Linked DNA regions of Homo sapiens: region 1 is linked to region 2. The links come from fine-mapping of genetic effects on gene expression. A gene starts in region 2. The other region holds a variant in brackets. All regions are shown on one strand. Distances are between the middles of the regions. Region 1 overlaps ABHD2 (abhydrolase domain containing 2, acylglycerol lipase). Region 2 holds the start of ABHD2 (abhydrolase domain containing 2, acylglycerol lipase).

Region 1 (8,998 bases), 44 kb before region 2:
GTTCCCGAACTGGTTTCTAAATACAGGACGGAGGCCACTGGGCCAGGCTGGTACATCTGTGACCTTTGTGCATATCGTGCAAACTATAAAATATGAATGTTAGGAGAACAGCCCCATGAGTTACAATAAAACCACTTAAAAAGAAACTACTTTTTTGCTCCAAGGAAAAATAAATGTGCTTTTCTAAAGTTCAAAGAAAACCAGTTAAAACCCCTCAGAACTGTATCCACATGTTAAATGCATCTGATCCCACTATCTTCCTGTTCACAAACAGCACGCGGAACTGGTCACATCCTCCCTAGGCACACCAAAGCACAGTCCTCTCTCCTCACGTTGCATTTCAACCTGGTTTTGACACCATGCTTTAAGTAGGGAGGCAGTTTATTAAGAAGCTCCAGAGTTCCAGTCTCCAGGGTTCCACTGGAACCCTGGATCCGTTAGAGAACTGGTCCTGCAAACAGCCAGTCAAAGATTAGTGACCTAACTTTAGGAGAAGGCACCACTATTCCCAGACCTGGGCTGCCAAGGTGCTAAGTGCAAAGTTCCCAGACTCACTCTGTGCTAACCAAACAGGATGTACGCTGACGCTCAGAACACAGAGCACCCGTGTCTTGTCCCCATCTGCCTAGTCACCTCTCTCCTGAGGACATGCACATAGATGCCAATGGTCTGCTCTTTGTCCAACACAGTGCCTTTTGGCTACTTCCCAGGCCAAGGCTACCTCAAAATCTGTGCCAGCGTTATGGGGAGGGAAGATTAGAGCTGGAAAATCACATTATATTTGCCACTATTCCTAGTGGAGGAAAACTCAAATACCTAAATGTGAAGCCCCTGGATTACCTACACAGAATGCTCTTTTAAGAACACGCTAATCAACTAGGAGCTGCGCTGGCTGGAGAGCAATGTTATAGAGCGGAGAGAGTGAGGAGGCTGCACCTGGCTCCCGATATCACAGCCATTGCAGTACAATGAGCTCCATAGAGATAGCACTGGGGCAAGTGAGAGCCAGATGGGCACTGGGCAATTCTGTGCCTTGCTGAGGAAAAATAACTAAACATGGGCAAAGGAGACCCTAAGAAGCCAAGAGAGAAAATGCCATCATATGCATTTTTTGTGCAAACTTGTAGGGAGGCACATAAGAACAAACATCCAGATGCTTCAGTCAACTCCTCAGAGTTTTCTAAGAAGTGCTCAGAGAGGTGGAAGACCATGCCTACTAAACAGAAAGGAAAATTCGAAGATATGGCAAAGGCAGACAGGGCCCATACGAAAGAGAAACGAAAACCTGTATCTTTCCTAAAGGGGAGACAAAAAAGACGTTCAGGCTGGGTGTGGTGGCTCACGCCTGTAATCTCAGCACTTTGGGAGGCTGAGGCGGGTAGATCACCTAAGGTCAGGAGTTCGAGGCCAGCCTGGCCAAGACAGTGAAAGCCCGTCTCTACTGAAAAAAAAAAAAAAATTGCCAGGCATGGTGGCGGGCGTCTGTAATCCCAGCTACTCGGGAGGCTGAGGCAAAAGAATCGCTTGAACCTGGGAGGCAGAGGTTGCAGTGAGCTGAGATTGCGCCATTGCACTCCAGCCTGGGCAACAAAAGGGAAACTCCATCTCAAAAGAAAAAAAAAAAAGTTAAAGGATCCCAGTGCACCCAAGAGGCCTCCTTCGGCCTTCTTCCTGTTCTGTTCTGTCCTGTTCTGTTCTGTTCTGAGTATCGCCCAAATATCAAAGGAGAACATCTGGCCTGTCCACTAATGATGTTGCAAAGAAACTGGGAGAGATGTGGAATAACATTGCTGCAGATGACAGGCAGCCTTATAAAAAGAAGGCTGCGAAGCTGAAGGAAAAGTAAGAAAAGGATATTGCTGCATATCGGGCTAAAGGAAAGCCTGCTGCAGCAAAAAAAGGGAGTTGTCAAGGCTGAAAAAAGCAAGAAAAAGAAGGAAGAGGAGGAAGATGAGGAAGATGAAGAGGATAAGAATGAGGAGGAGGAAGATGAAGATGATGATGAATAAGTTGGTTCTAGTGTAGTTTTTTTTCTCGTCTATAAAGCATTTAACCTGTACATAACTCACTCCTTTTAAAGAAAAAAACTGAAATGTAAGGCTGTGTAAGATTTGTTTTTAAACTGTACAATGTCTTTTTTTTTTTGTATAGTTAACACACTACCAAATGTGTCTTTAGATATCCCTGTCCTGGTGGTATTTTCAATAGCCACCAACCTTGCCTAGTACAGTATGGGGATTGTAAACTGGCATGGAAATTAAAAGCAGGTTCTTGTTAGTGCATGGCACAAATTAGTTATATATGGGGATGGTAGTTTTTTCATCTTCAGTTGTCTCTGATGCAGCTTATATAAAATGACTGTTGTTAAGTGAATACCACTCTGTAATTGCAAAAAAAAAAAAAAAAAAGAAAAAGTTGTAGCCATTTTGTTGACATTCTGAATGCTTCTAAGCAAATACAATTTTTTATTAAAAATAAATAAAGAAAGAACACACCAATCAAGAGATGACTTTAAGGATTAAAATGCTGACATTTGACATCAGCATTTGTACTACATCTTGCCTTTCTTTGATGTGCAGAAAACAACTCATAAAATGGCAAGCAATGATGTTAGGAAAAAGTAGGTTCTACAAATATTTAATGAAAATTATGTTTCTTTTGTCAGTAATTATATAGATCATTACTAATAAGCCATACTCAAAACTTGACCCCATTCTTGCTCCCAGGGAGTTCACAATCAAGAAAAGGAGATAAGAAAACTTTATAATGCTCTTTCGGGCTCAAAGACTTGAATAAATGAACTTGCACTGGAAAACTTGGCATCACAAACATGTCAATTTTCCCTAAATTACCTATAAACTTAAGAGATACACAATAAAAATAATAAGATTTTTATATGTGGAATTAAACAAGCATTCTAAAGTTCATTTGGAAAAATGAACCAGCTATAATAGCCAAGAAAAGTATGAAAACAAGCAGTGCTGGGGTATGAGCATCGCCCCACTGCCCACAGCAAAACATAGTACAAAGCTGCAATCTGCTGATGGTATATGTTCAGGACCATCAACAGAACACAAAAGACTGGAAATATGCCTAAATACATCCAGGAAATTTAGTTGGTGAAAAAGGTGGCATTTGAATAATGGGGTAAAGATGGATTGTTTAATAGTGTTGGACAAAGTGTAGCCGTCTTGAAAAAAATTATGTTGGAGCCACACCTCACACCAGGATAAATTCTGGAAGGATGAAACATTTCAAAATAAAAATGAAATCATTCATATGCTAGAAGAAATTCTAGGCTTTTAAAAATAATCTTGCAGTGAAGAAGACCTTTCTAAGGAAACCAGAAATCCCAGAAGCCACAAAAGAAACAATTGAAAAATTTAATTATGCAAACATTAAAAAAAATTATGCGGCCGGGCGCCGTGGCTCACGCCTGTAATCCCAGCACTCTGGGAGGCTGAGGCGGGAGGATCACGAGGTCAGGAGATCGAGGCCATCCTGGCTAACATGGTGAAACCCCGTCTCTACTAAAAATACAAAAAAAATTAGCCGGTCGTGGTGGCAGGCACCCGTAGTCCCAGCTACTCAGGAGGCTGAGGCAGGAGAATGGTGTGAACCCAGGAGGCGGAGCTTGCAGTGAGCCGAGATCACGCCACTGCACTCTAGCCTGGGTGACAGAGCGAGACTCTGTCTCAAAAAAAAAAAAAAAAAAAATTATGCATGGCAAATACCACTATGGGCAAAGTCAAAAGACAAATGACAAACTGAGAACAAATATTTGCAATTCATATCACAAAGGGCTAATTTCCCTAGTACATAAAGAGCTCCCTCAAATGATTAGGAAAAAGACCAATGACCATCAGAAAAATGGTTAGAGGCCACCAACAGGCAGTGAACAGAAAAGGAAATAAAAAGAGTTCTAAAATATGAAAAGATACACAGTCTCTTTAATCAAAGAAAGACTAATTAAAACCACAGTGAGAAAACATTTTTCACCTACCAGATTGGCAAATATCAAAAAGTAGAACTCCTGATGTTGGCAACGTTTTGGGGAAATGTGCTCACAGTGCTGGTGTGGAGAGGCTTGAGGACAACAGCTAGCAAAATTTTCCATGCACATCCCCTTTGACCCAGTAGTTCCACCTCTAGGAGTTTATCCTATACTGACAGGTGCGCATCGTGATGAAAATACAGAAGCATTCAATGCAACATTGTGAAAGCAAAAGATTACAAATAAAGGAAACCTCTATCTAGGAGACTGGTTAAACAAACTATTTTTTTATGGAATACGAAGCAGTCAAGACATAAATGGAGGAAGCTCTTTCAGCACTCCTATGGACAAATCTCTGAGTGATATTTCACAAAGAAAAGATGGAAGGATAAACAAGAGCCGACTGACAGCAAGGGCAACACGGAGGGTACAAGGTCATAGGTTCTACTGGCTGATAAAAGAACCTCTGGGAAATGCAGCCAGGCTTCTTGACCAGGGTGAGCCTTGAGCACAAATGTAAGAGGAAGGAAATGATGCAGCTGCCCTGGAGCTTTCC[G/A]TCAGAGGAACAGTTACAAAAAGCTGATAGAAGCCACTGTTGATGGCTGTGGGTTAGCCCTGTTGAAATGGCAGCCCTCCCCTACGGTATGTGGGCACAGGAAAACATTTTCTCAGATGGTCAACAACTCCATCCTTGAGAAACCCCAGCTTAGGCACCAGACCTTCATCTTGTCCACAAAGTGAGAGAGCGCCACCAAACCATGCAGATAAGCATGTTCTAGAAAGTCCTACTAAAGCAAAGTCCATCTCTCTTTACATATAAAGGACAAATGCAAAGGACAGTGCTGGTGTCACTGCTTATTATTAGGAATGAACAAGATAATGGCTTTCAAAACTATGAAAGATGAAATGCATATTCAGAGTCCTCTTAATTTCATATCAATTTGAAATAGCTATAAGAAATTAGAAGCTTAAAAATCACCCATATCCTCACAAGCCTTGCAAAAATATTCTCATTTTTGTTTCCTTTTCATCTATATCTATCTGAAAGCAGAGTATTTACATAGTTACAACAATGGTGCTCAGATAGAGATATATAATTGTCTTCTGCTTTTTTCACTTATTCTCTATTTTTATAGATAATTAGTATGCTAAGTTCTGAACGTCTGCATAAAATTCTATCCTGTTTATTAGCTATAGTTAAGGGAGGGAGCAAACATTTATTTAGCCCCTTCTATGGGCATGTTACATAATTCAATTTGTCCCTTACAGCGATTCTTATTATTAGGACCCCCTTTACAGACAGAAACTGAGTGTCCAACAGCCTACTGCACAGCGGACCCTGCATTTGAACTCTGTGTGTGTCTGACCCGACAGCTCTTTCTTTCCCCTGCATTATCTTGCTGCTGCCTCCATTGTTGGATGCTGCTATTCCCAGTTTTTACTATAATAAACAATGCCAGCAAAACATCTTTACATATTTTGTTTTCATCTTTCTTGAATTTTTTTTTCATGTTTTTCAACTCCTGTTTAAAAAGTCCAACAGGATGCCTCATCTGTCTCCTGACTCCTGCCCCTGAGAGATGACTATTCTTAACTCCTTTAGTCGTCCCTACCATCCCACACTTGCCTTTATTTCTTAATGCCATGCTTATCCTGCTTATGCTGGTTCTTCAATTTCAGTTTTCAATAGCACCTATTGAACTTCCTACTCTGGAGGGTGCTAGCTCTCTTACGTCTCTCCTAAGACTTACATTTTCCCCTCGCCCATTCTTTTCAACACTGTTACAGCAACACTTATGGTTAATTTTCAGTGTTTATAAAATTATAATTATGGAAATATTAGCCACAAAGAAGTCATATGTTGTATTCTTTTTTGTGAAATTTTTTATTTTCCCTCAAGTTATCACTTTTATCATTTCCTCATCAGCTTAGTTTTCTATGTGCCAATCATCAATTTGTCTCCAGACTCTAGGGGACCTGTTAGTCTCTCAATAGTCAGAAACCAGTTTTGCTTTTTCTTGGACACACCACTGAGGAGTCCCTGTGCCTGTTCCCCTCTGGAAGGGCTTCCCATCCTGCCCCTTCACCTCTCTGCTGGGTCCTAGATCCCAAGGCCACACCAGATGCTATCAGACAACAGAGAAGAGAACCATAAATGTCCAGAAAGCATTCATCAGAAAGAAGGTGATTATGTTCTCTCAAATAAAGAGGCTGTGTGGAGGTATGAAGGGATTCCAGGTAGAAGGCATTGCAAATGTAAGACATAGTCAAGAGAGAACATGCAGTATGAGAAAATGTGGAGAGATCTGATGTGTCTAGAACACAAGGAATATAGGGAAGAAGGAGCGAGGGCTGATGCTGGACCTCGCCCTACAGACAGTGAGGAGCCACTTGGTTTAAAGCAGGGGCATGGCATGATGAATTTGTGCTTTAGGAAGATAATTTGGTGGCCTGCAAGATCAATTAGAAAGGGTAGAGAATGGAGGGAAAGCTATTGCATTCTTCCAGGTGAAAGCTGATGACGTCCTGCAGTGAAGCAGAGGCACTGAAGGAGAGATGGAGTGAAGGACAGAAGGAAGGAGGCCCACGTGACACAGGCTGCTGCCTGTGGCCATGATTATTCTCCTCTTCTCTGGACACAGGTGTGCTGCTTCTCAAGTTAGGCATGGGCACGAGCCTTGCTTTAAACCAGGGGTGTCTAATGTTTTGGCTTCCCTGGGCCACTTTGGAAGAATTGTCTTGGGCCACACATAAAATACACTAACACTAATGACAGCTGATGGACTAAAAGAAAAAGAAAATCACACAAAAAATCTCATAATATTTTAAGAAAGTTTATGAATTTGTGTTGGGCTGCAATCAAAGCTGTCCCAGGCCACATGCAGTCTGTGGGCTATGGGCTGGACAAGCTCTCAAGCTTGTCCAACCTGCCTTATTTTGTTGTTATTGTTCTGTTTCTTTTGTAGGCTTTTAGCAGCCTAAAGCCATGGTTTGTAGTTTCTGTCTCTAGTGATAAGCAAAAAACAGGGATGAGGAAGGGGCTTTACCGGACCAACCAGAAACAGAAACTGAGAACCCATGACTGTATTATCTCCCTTGGACACCCAAACCAATGAAATGGGAAAGGAAATGACCAAGTGCCATTTCCGGTAGCAGCCTGTAAGAGCCAGTGTGTGAGGTGTGACATTGCTCTTCCTGGCTCGGTGATGACCACGGAAGCAGGTGTTGAGATGTCACCTCCATCAGCTGGGGTCCTGGTGGGATGACAATCAGCAGAGCCCTCCTGCCCATTGAAATAAACACGTAGCATGAGTGAGAAATAAACATTTGTGGCTTTAAGATGTGCAGGTTTAGAGGTAATTAGTTACCACAGTATAAACTAGTTTACTTCGACTAATACGATGTCCAACTTAATATAATTTTGACAATATTGCCATATTTTCCTCTGAATATCAAATAATATTTCATGTTTTAAGGCTTCATTGTTACCAAGTCTTAACATTATGAGGTGCTTATTACATGTATTTCCTTATGTGGAATTTATCTAGGCACATCTTTTACCCACTTACCCACTGATGTCCTACTGACATTCAGGTGTGCTTGTGTGACCTTCGTGTACATTATGTCTTTTGCTATTTGTACAACTGATCTAGCTGATAATATTAAAATAAAAATAGCTACAATAATAGCAGCTATATTTACTGAACTCTTACACATGCCAAGTATCCTATAAATCATCTTACATGCTGTTCTTTTTTTTTTTTTAATCAGCATACTGAACCTATGAAATAAGTGCTATTATACCCATCTTACAAATGAGGAAATAGAAGCTCGGCAAGGTGAAGCCACTGGCCAGCAGGGGGCAGGGCTGGCATCTGAGCCCAGGTGGGTCTCACTGCTGATCTGGACTCTGGATTCCCGGGGGGCAACAGCTCGCTAACTTCACCCTCTCACTTGGGCCCCTGGATTTACCCTCTCAATCTTAGGGGAAAAACCTTCAATCAATTTGGCTTTCTCCTCCAGTTTCCATTTTTTCTCCTTCCTTCTCTGGTGTTTGTTTCCTGACTCACTTCTTTGGTTGCTATTGTGCTGACCTGTTTATTCACCTCACTCCTGAAAACACATTCTCAAAAATCCCTGATCCTTTCTGGCCAAGGTAGATGGCCTTTGGTCAGCCCTCATTCTTCCTGAGTTTCTGACACCCTCTTCAATGTTTTCCTTCTCTGGCTGCCATGGAACTGGAGGCTGCTGGTTCTCTCCCTACCTTTCTTACTGCCTGTCTCTGTCTCTTCCACCCTAGCCATGGCCTGCCTCAGCCATCAGTCTTTAGTGTCTCTCTCTGCCCACCCCCACAACCTCCCCTACCTGCAGCTGATCTGGAATCTACACATCTGGTCTTGAGCTCCCACCTAAGTTCTAATGCCATAATTGCACATAACCCTGTGCACATCCTGTGGACAAGCCCCAAGCTAAACAACTTTCCTTGAGAAAGCAGCTTCCCCATTAGACTTCCCTATTTCTGTCAATGATTCTATTCTCTCAACCGCTCAGTAACCTCAGCATAATCTGTGATTCAGCCCTTTCCTCTGATGCCCAAGGCCATTCCATTACCCACCAATACCACTGATTCCACCTTAGAAGACCTCTGGAATTTGTCCCATCCTTCCCTTTCCAACCACCTACCACCAGTGCTCACAGGATCAAGCCCAAACTCTTCCTCTCTGGGAATTAGAGACTCCTCGTGATCTGATCTCCTCTTCCTCCCCCCCACAGACCATAGGGCTCTCTGCTACAATCAAACAGCTCTCAGCTCACCAGATCGTGGCATAGGGACCTGGTGAGGAGCTGGCCACGAAGCAACTATAGAGACCAGACCAGTGATGGGGCCCAAAACCCATTAGCAAACAAAATCAAAGGGCACAGTGAGCAAAGGGCAGACTGGGTAGCAGGGCCAAACATGATGCAAGCAGCACCAAGATCATTTTTGGGAGTTACAAGAGAGAC
Region 2 (8,998 bases):
ATGCTGGAAATGAGGCCAGGCACGGTGGCTCACGTCTGTAATCCCAGCACTTTGGGAGGCTGAGGCAAGAGGATCACCTGAGGTCAGGAGTTTGAGACCAGCATAGTGAAACCCTGTCTCTACCAAAAATACAAAATTAGCTGGGGGTGGTGGCGTGTGCCTGTAATCCCAGCTACTTGAGAGGCTGAGGCAGGAAAATCGTTTGAACCCGCGAAGCAGAGGTTGCAGCGAGCCAAGATTGCGCCACTGCACTCCAGCCTGGGAGACAAAAGTGAGACTCTGTCTCAAAAAAAAAAAAAAAAAAAAAAAAGAATGAAAAAAGATGCTGGAAATGTGACTTGGGGAGGCCAGGAAGCTTCTCTGGAGAACAGAGAGCAAACGGCAAACTTTCCCTGGAAATGCTAGCACATTCTGCACAGACGGCAAGGCGAAGAAGGGCCCAAGGACCAATGCGTTCCTCACTCTCCAGTGCCCCAGCTCTCCCTTCTCAGCTGACCTTTAGAAGCTCCCCTGCACCTCCCCCGGGCTCTCACAGAAAAGAAAAATATTTGCCTCCAAATATTCACAAGATCTTTAAGATCTCCAGCAAAGCTGCTGCCTAAATAAGACTGTTTTTTAGCATCCTTAGAAACAGAAAACAGATATCTAAAATAGACGGCCTTCATAAAAAATGACGTGGAAGCTCTTTTCACACTGCCAAGAAATATTAAGTGAAAAAGGCAAGGTTCCAAATAGCATGTATGCAGTGTGCTACCATTTCTGCAAAAAGGGGTGGTGTACAGAATATGTTTAACGAATTTGCTTACAGATGTATAAAATCCCTTGGAAGTTCAGGGACCACTTCTGGAGGATGAAGAAATCGCTAATACTGGTTGCCTCTGAGGATCAGGGGTCAGGGGTACACACAGATGTATTTACTAGTTAACCTTTTGTGCCTTTAAAAAATTTTCTTTCATCATGTGAATGTATTGCCTATTTTTAAAAACTAAAATTTGAATTAAAAAATTTTAAAATTTCTATTAAAAACAATTTTAAAACAAAATAGTTTTTAAGCAACAAACCAAACTAATTTGTTAATCTTGTCAACTGTGTTCCTGGCACACACCAGATGCTTAATTTGTTGAACTTAATGAACCTCCACTTAAAGACAACAAAAGAAAATCAGAAACCAGGCAAATCCAAGGGTACCAACGTTCCACTTCTCTAAAAAGCTCTTCACCTGTCTGCTATTTATTGTGAAAGATCAGACAATGAGTCGGTGTGTAACAAGCCCCTCACCCAAATGGCCCCAGTCCACAAGCTTCAGGGGTAATGGTGGAGCTTATCGTCTGTCCACACCAACCATTTTACAAACAGAAAACATTCAATCCAAAAATATGATGCCCTGGACAAGACAACAAAAATCAATCTGCAGATATGAAAATCCTGAAAGGAGATAATGTAGCATCTGTATGGTATCAACAAAGAAACAGCAGCACAGGGCTTAAAAATGTCCTACTCATGCACTGGCCAAAAAGGCTGAACCATGAAAAGCTGCTATAAAATCCTGACACCAGACACATTTAAGAGGCACCCTGAACTTCTCATTGCTCTGTTCCTGGGGATAGCTTAGCCCAAGATGAAACAGAAAGGCTAAAGCAACTCATGCCCCACATCATCTATACTCTGAAACTGGTCATGGAGTACTCAAAACTCACAATGCAATAAAAATGGGAATACTGTAAGCTGTAGGTCATGGTAGAAATTCTGCCACACAAAATTCAATTATATTGGAAATGTCTCTCTCCTGGGGCTTTTAAAAGAGCCAGATTTTAGGCAAAAAATAAGACAGACTCTACCCCTGTCTCCCATAAGACCAAAGAAATTATTTCCTGCTCGGGGCAGGAGCTCTGAACAAGGGCAGTGAGAACCACTACAGAGGTTATGGGTCCTGCCGGAGATTACCAGGAAAAGGCGTAAATGCTTAAAGCAACGAGTAACAGCAAATGAGAAGCTCATCCACCAAAATACTGAGAAAAGAGAGTGAGAAAGAGAGAAAGGGGCCCATATTAATACACAAGCAAAGAAATGAAAACTATTATTCTAAAATGGCTGATCTCTAGAACAGCTTAAACAAAAACCGAAATTCAGAATCAACTCAAGAAAAATAAAGCATGAGAAGGTGCCATTTAATGAAGTGATAATCTTTGGTTCAATCTAGAAAACAAGTAAAAACAGAAGAGAAAATCAAAGGTGACTGGATTCCTGCAAAAAATGAAAGTGGCAGGCATCTTTTCATCAAAAGGGAATTGGCTGGCACACTGAGAGTGCCTATTTGTCAGACCCACGCAGGCGATAAAGGAAATGAAGGTGAGAGTAAAAAGGGAAAAAAGTGAACGACCCTGACTAAAATGAGAGGAAAAAGACCATTCCCTTGTACTTGCCATCTGGTTTATTTCAAGCTTTGGAAAAGAACAGGAAAAACACAGATAAACCAGTGAACCAGCTAGATTGCCAGCACGGATCAGTCACACACTTTTGCTTCTGCCAGGCCAGGCAGGCGCTGCTGGTGCTCCCCCTATTCGAATGACTAAGTAACTTCCTTAAATGCAGTTGACACATGATCCCTGAACTTCCGAAAAGCACTTAATACAGTGGCTCATAAAATCTTAATCTAAAAATGTTCATCCATTTAGAATCAAGCTGCATCACACTCATCGCTTGGGAGGAGGGCTGAAGAGAGGGAATACATATTTGGAAGGACACCATGGACACGGGTATCATCCAGGACTTTACCATTTCGAGGGATTCCCACCCCTCACTGCCTGCTTTTAACGATAATTTTAAAGGGTTCAGAGCCTAAGAAGAATGTAACTGCAAGGGGGAACTAACATAGAAACTAAATTACCTGAATCACAAAAATAAGTAAGGTATAAAATGCAACGTGACTTGGAAACCCCTTGCAGCTGTCTGTGTTAAAATGAAATCTGGAATATGTTAAATGAATTTGGGGGTGGGGGGAAGGGGACTGGGGGAAAAATTAGCTCTTGATAGAGTATTGGGTGGTGGATATGAAGAAAAATGTACAAAAAGGCAACAGAATATCATATCTAGCAAATCTATTGTGCTTACCCTGTGCCAGGTACTGTTCTAAATGCTTCAGATGTAGTAACTCCATGCACTTCTCAAAACAATCTTCTAACATAAGTATCATTATTATTTCTGTTTTAGAGGTGAGGAAACAGAGGCACAGAGAAGTTAAGTAGCTTGCCCAAGGTTGTACAGCCAGTAAGAGGCAGGGCTGGGATTCAAATCCAGGCACTCAGGCACCAAAATCTGTCCTCCTAACCTCTCTGGACTCCCCTAGAACTTAAAACACTGAGAATGGGCAAACTAAGCTTGGAGTGAAATAAGTCATGCACTGGCTAGATCTAAATACAGTCAAGAGATCAACCCTTAGTCATGGGCCTGTGATGACCAACCAGCCCTGTGACCACCCCAGGCCTCAGTTTCCTCACCTGTGCATTGAGGAGACTGAATGAGAGTCCACCTAATTAGACTTAGATAGAGATGAGCTCTATCTAAGGTGCCTTCAGCTCTAAAATGTCACAGTCCGTGCTGACTACCAGCTGTATATGGACTGCTTTCTGACTAGATGTTCAAAGATTAATTCATCCTAAAACACACAGCAAGGTGTGTTAAGATTCTTTCTCTGCCTCCTGACCTTTAGATTATTATGTTCTCTCTATTCCGGCAAATGACAGAGGGTAGTGAAGGATTTCTCTTTTGGACTCTGCTTAATGTGGCTGTAAGGAAACGGCCTTCGAAAAGCTCTGGGCACAGATCTTGTTGACTCTGCCAAACCTGCAGTCTCTCCAGGTCCCTCTGTGGAGCCTGTTCTTGGAACATGCCTTTGGATTTGGTTACTGGAATGCAGGTGAAACTGACAAACTGGAGGTCCAGCAACCAAAAAAGAGAGATTGGGAAGATTAAGAGAGCGGTCCATGGTAGTTCAAATACAAGGAGTTTCACAGTGGCTAAATAAACCTCTATCTTTTTGTATAATCCAGTCTCTTTGCTAACACCCACTCTTGAGAGCTGAAACCTCAAAATTCATTATGGGTGAATTCAACAGCCACTTGGAACCTAATGGACCCCCAGAAGTACTCTTCTCAAGCTAGGCATCAAAGGCCACTTAGAGTGCATTTGTGGGTAGAGAAGGCCCTTACAGATGGGTCATGCAGTCCTCCCTTGGGAGTCCTAAGCATCCGACACAGGTGGCTGTCATCAGGCCACTGCTTGGACATCGCCAAGGTCGAGGCGCTAGCTGCCCGGCCTGGCAGGCAGCCTCCTGCGCTGCTGGACAGCTCTAGCTGTGGGAAAAGCTCACGAAGGGCCTAGAACAGTGCCGGTCGCGGGGCCGAACTCGGTAAATGTGCTTCCAAGTGGGTCAAAAGCTGCCTTTCTAGAACTTAAACCCACTGGTCCTGCGTGAGCCCCTGGAGCCCCGAAACACAGAGGCCTCTCGGGTATCTCGGGCTGTAATCAGGCCCCTCGGCCCTCTCCTTCCAGGTGCGGATCCCGGACCTTCTTCGCCGAGCCTGAACCGGCAGACCCCTCCCCAGGCCCCTGAAGACCCAGGAGTGAGCACCAATGGGGGAAAGGCCGCGGTCGGGGTTGTCCCCAACCTCGGTTCCTCGGGCAGAAGGGGACAAAGGGCCTCAGGAAGGCGTATCCCCCGCCGCGATCTGGGCTGTCCCCACCACTGGGCAAGCCAGCCCCTGGGACCCCCACGGCGCCAGATGACAGGCCCCCCAGGATCCCCTCAGGCTGCGGCGTGATGGGCCGAGCTACGCCGGGGACCTCGGGGCTCGGAGATTCGGTTCGACGGGTCCGGGGTGCGATCCCCGCTCCGCGGAGCTCGCTCGGCCGTGGCTTTACCTGCGTGTGATTGACTACAGGTGCTCAGCTCGCCCCCAGTCTGGTTCCTGCAGCTCCCCGGCTGCCAGCGGCGCTCATGGATATACAGCCGGAACCCCTGGCCAGTGCAGCTCCCGCCGCTACCGGCCCCGCCCAAGTAACTGCCGCCACGCCCCTGACGACCGCTTCTGCCACGCCCCTAACCACGGAAACCGCTTGTTCATTGGGCAGTTCAGCCGCTTCTCCACTTGCCCCGCGCGCTCATTGCGTCTAGGAGGGGATCCATTGATCAGCGAAGCTGTTCCTCAGAGTGGAGGCGGGATTCTTAGGGGAGAGCTCCTCAGCAATTGGTTACATTTGACGGCTTTAGTCCAGGGACCCAGACGCTACTGGATAAGGCCAGCCCGGAGTGGGCGGGGAAAGGGGAGGAGGGCTAGAAGGTGGGTCGTGTTTGATGTCGATGGGGGCGGGGTGAAGAGACGGGTAATTGTGACCGCAAACTGCTTTAGAGGGCTGGGTAAGGTCAGCTGTCGACTGGGCTCAGAGGAATGAGGTCGGCTGGTAGCTCAGCTGCTGGTAGCTCAGCTGGGGCTCTTATGGGTCCAGGCCGACTGACTGACTCACGTGTACTCAAATTTCGCAGGGGTGAAATTTGAGGTCATATCCCGGGAGAGAGGAAGAAGGGTCGTGAGTCACCGAACCCGAAGGAGAGGAAAAGATGTGGAGGCAGCGGTCTATGGCCTCTTCCAGCTCCGGACGGGGGATGGGGACGCTCTGGGCAATACGGGCCTCAGTTATTGTCCCACTGTCCTTTCAACCCTTAACCAACCCAGTTGGAGGCCGCCTGGAAGAATGTAGCCTTGGAACTAGGGCCTGGAATTGGGGCTCCTACCGGTTGTGTGGGCTTGGGCAAGTCACTTAACCTTCCCGCATGCTCCCTTCACTTGGCAACTGAGGGTAACAATAGTAGTTGATGAGAAGATTAAATAAACTCTGATAAATGCCAACAGTGGCTGGCACTCAACAGGCATTCAATCAAGGCTGATTCTTCCCCCATCACCCACTCACCTCATCCGGCTGGGAAACTAGGCCCATTTCTAAAATTCTATGAGCCTGAAACTGCTTTTGCAATGGCATGTCGTGTACCAAGAATAGAACACTTGAGCGACTTGAAATGCAACCCCTGTAGGGCAGACAAGGCCACCCTACCAAGGCCCCATAGGGCTCGGAGAGAGGGAGCAGGGGATGAAATGAGAGGAGCGATTTAGTCAGAGAAGGGAAGTGGCATTTGTTACCATGTAAATTTTTCCCAACATATTTCAGGTTGTGACAAGGAACAGTGGGCTGGCTCAAGTTTTATGGAGCGTAACCAAATAACATCCTTTGAAGGCTGATCAGCACCGGACCAGAAATCATTGCATGAGCTCTATCTGTCAGAGACCCCTGAAACCCATTCCCCATTCTGAAGGTGTAGACATCACAGAGTGTGGACAGAAATAGCTTCTCAGGCCTGAATGTAGCCCCAGACCCTTTGTGTCTGTCTTTGAAAGAACTCACAGCCATGGTACATCAGAGTGAAGGAGAAGAAAGAATCCTTTGCCATTGCTCTATTTTTCATTCAGTTGTCATGTTACCTTGAAAAAAAAAGGTTTCATCTCAGTGTTTATATATTCCTCTGTATTCTCTTTCATCTTGGAAAAGAAAAACCCAGGCTTCAGTAGCAAAGTCTCTTAGTGATGAACCCCATCGTCCTGACTCTGAGTTAAAACAGTTTGGACTTCCAAAAAAGAGCTTTAGATTATCACTAGATAAGTATATAAGGTAATGCATATGTTAACTAGCTTGGTGTAGCTATCCCACAATGTATACATGTATCAAAACATGGACCGGTACAGTGGCTCACGCCTGTAATCCAACATTTTGGGAAGCTGAGGCGGAGCCCAGGAGTCTGAGACCAACCTGGGCAACATAGTGAGACCCCGTCTCTACAAAAAATTTAAAATTTAGCCTGATGTGGTGGTGCATGCCTGTAGTCCCAGCTAGTGGGGAGGCTGAGGCAGGAGGGTTGTTTGAGCCCAGGAAGTTGAGGCTGCAGTGAGCTGTGATCGCACCACTGCACTCCAGCCTGGGCCACAGAGTGAGACCTTGTTTGACAAATAAACATAATAACATGATAAACATAAATAAGTAAAGCATGTTGTACATCATAAATATATACAAATTTTGTCAATTAAAAATTAATAATAATTTAAAAAATAGGCTGGGCACAGTGGCTCAAGCCTGTAATCCCAGCACTTTGGGAGGCCAAGGCAGGAGGATCACCTGAGGTCAGCAGTTCCAGACCAGCCTGGCCATCATGGTGAAACCCCATCTCTACTAAAAATACAAAATTAGCTGGGCATGGTGGCACACACCTGTAATCCCAGCTACTCAGGAGGCTGAGGCAGGATAATCGTTTGAACCCAGGAAGCAGAGGCTGCAGTGAGATTGCACCACTGCATTCCAGCTTGGATGACAGAGTGAGACTCTGTCTCAGAAAAAAAAAAACAAAAAAGATTTGTCACTAGTTTTGGAGGGGTGTGTACACATATCTATGTACACATTTGGTTCTGATCCACAGTTTTCTGGTTCTTGTCTTTAAACAGTGCTGCTTGGTAGCCATACACATGGCTGCATGCATGTTACGGAAATAGGCCCAGCCCAATACAGGTTTGCTTCTGCCTGTGTTTGCTAAGGGAAAGTGAGATGTCTTGTTAGGCCCTGAAAAGCATGAAGTGGCTCCTGAGATCCAGGATGATTTCTCCAACTTGATTCAGAGCCACAAAAAGCAGCTGTTAGGAGTAGATTGCAGATGGGCTCGCCATTGTGTAAATGGCTTTTTTCTCCCATCTCAGGAACATAGGTTCAGCCACCAGTTCCAGAAAAGGACATCTTTCCAGTTCAGGAATTCTAAAACACAATTATGTCACAGAGGCTCAAAAAGAGGCACAGACTGAGCTCAGGAAGAGGAGGAAGAGTAAAAGGATCCGGGCATCTTCTCTGCAGCTCTGGCAGGCTTAAAGAATGATCCATTATCATTTCCCAGCACACAGAACTGTTTCCTTAATTGTCTCTGGTTTCTGTTTCCTCCCTTCTGCTTGCAGTCTTGCCATATTCTGTTTAATCATATTATTTCATTCTATAAATCATTTCTGAGGGAGGCCATTTAGGAGACAAAATGGACTTATTTTTGCCTTCAAGTTTAGTGGCCCGTTGGGATTGAGGATTTGGTGAGCCTTGGCCTGAGATAAGCAGGTGTTGGGATGTGGCTGTAAAGTGAATTTTCAAAACCGTGACAGTACCTTGTAATAAAAAAGAACAAGGGAGAGGGTATGCCCCAGTCACCTTCTGGGATGGCCAAAGCTGCAGGACTTCATTAAAGCAGAACTGCTTCTAACTCAACTGGGGCCTCTGCAGGATTTACTAACCTGAGAAAGTCAAGGTACTCTGGGAGACAGCAGGGAGCAGTGGTTGGAGCAGATAATATGTTCTATTTATTCTTTTAAGGAAAATCAGCAATTCACTCAGTTTGTCATTTTTGTTATTCTGTGTCCTCGGGGGATGGTTCAGAGAAAGGGGATTTGGAAGCTCTACTGCTGGGGATTGGATCCTGATTCCATCCTTCCTAGCCTTGTGACCTTGGGCGAGTACAGCACATCTCTGTGCCCTACTTTCTTCTGTAAAACGCAGAGGACAGTGAAGTGCTTGTCTCATGGGGTCCTTTGAGTGGCAGATGAGTTCACAGATGCAAAGTGCATCAAACAGTACCTGGCAAATACCTAAAAATGTTTAATAAATGTTTGCCACAGCTATTATAGGAGCCCATTTCAGAACCTTCCTCTAAGGTCCTCACTCATTTTCTAAGTTCTAGCCCTCAGAAGTAGTGATCACAGGATTCAGGATTTTTAGAAAATATAGATAGACTTTATTTTTTAAAGCAGTTTTAGGGCCAGGCGCCGTGGCTCATGCCTGTAATCCCAACACTTTGGGAGGCTGAGGTGGGCGGATCACTTGAAGCCAGGAGTTTGAGACCAGTCTGGTCAATTGGCGAAACACCGTC

What was found.
Region 1: its variant is fine-mapped to the expression of ABHD2 in whole blood (TOPMed, PIP 0.98).

Annotation. Positions count from the first base shown.
Region 1 is chr15:89,128,554-89,137,551 of GRCh38, reverse strand. All of the region lies in intron 3 of ABHD2 (abhydrolase domain containing 2, acylglycerol lipase), which reads right to left. It also overlaps the pseudogene HMGB1P8. Among named protein-coding and RNA genes, the nearest start is that of ABHD2, 45 kb to the right of the region's middle. The variant G/A (reference allele first, on the strand shown) is at 4,551.
Region 2 is chr15:89,084,486-89,093,483 of GRCh38, reverse strand. ABHD2 (abhydrolase domain containing 2, acylglycerol lipase) reads right to left here and starts at 5,028. Exons shown (of 11, transcript NM_152924.5): 1 at 4,921-5,028. LOC124903573 reads left to right here. Exons shown (of 7, transcript XM_047433432.1): 3 at 1,243-1,308; 4 at 2,201-2,349; 5 at 4,552-4,649; 6 at 4,798-5,416; 7 at 5,543-5,923. The coding sequence ends at 5,757. RefSeq lists enhancers at 4,369-4,888, 4,830-5,009, 5,620-6,265.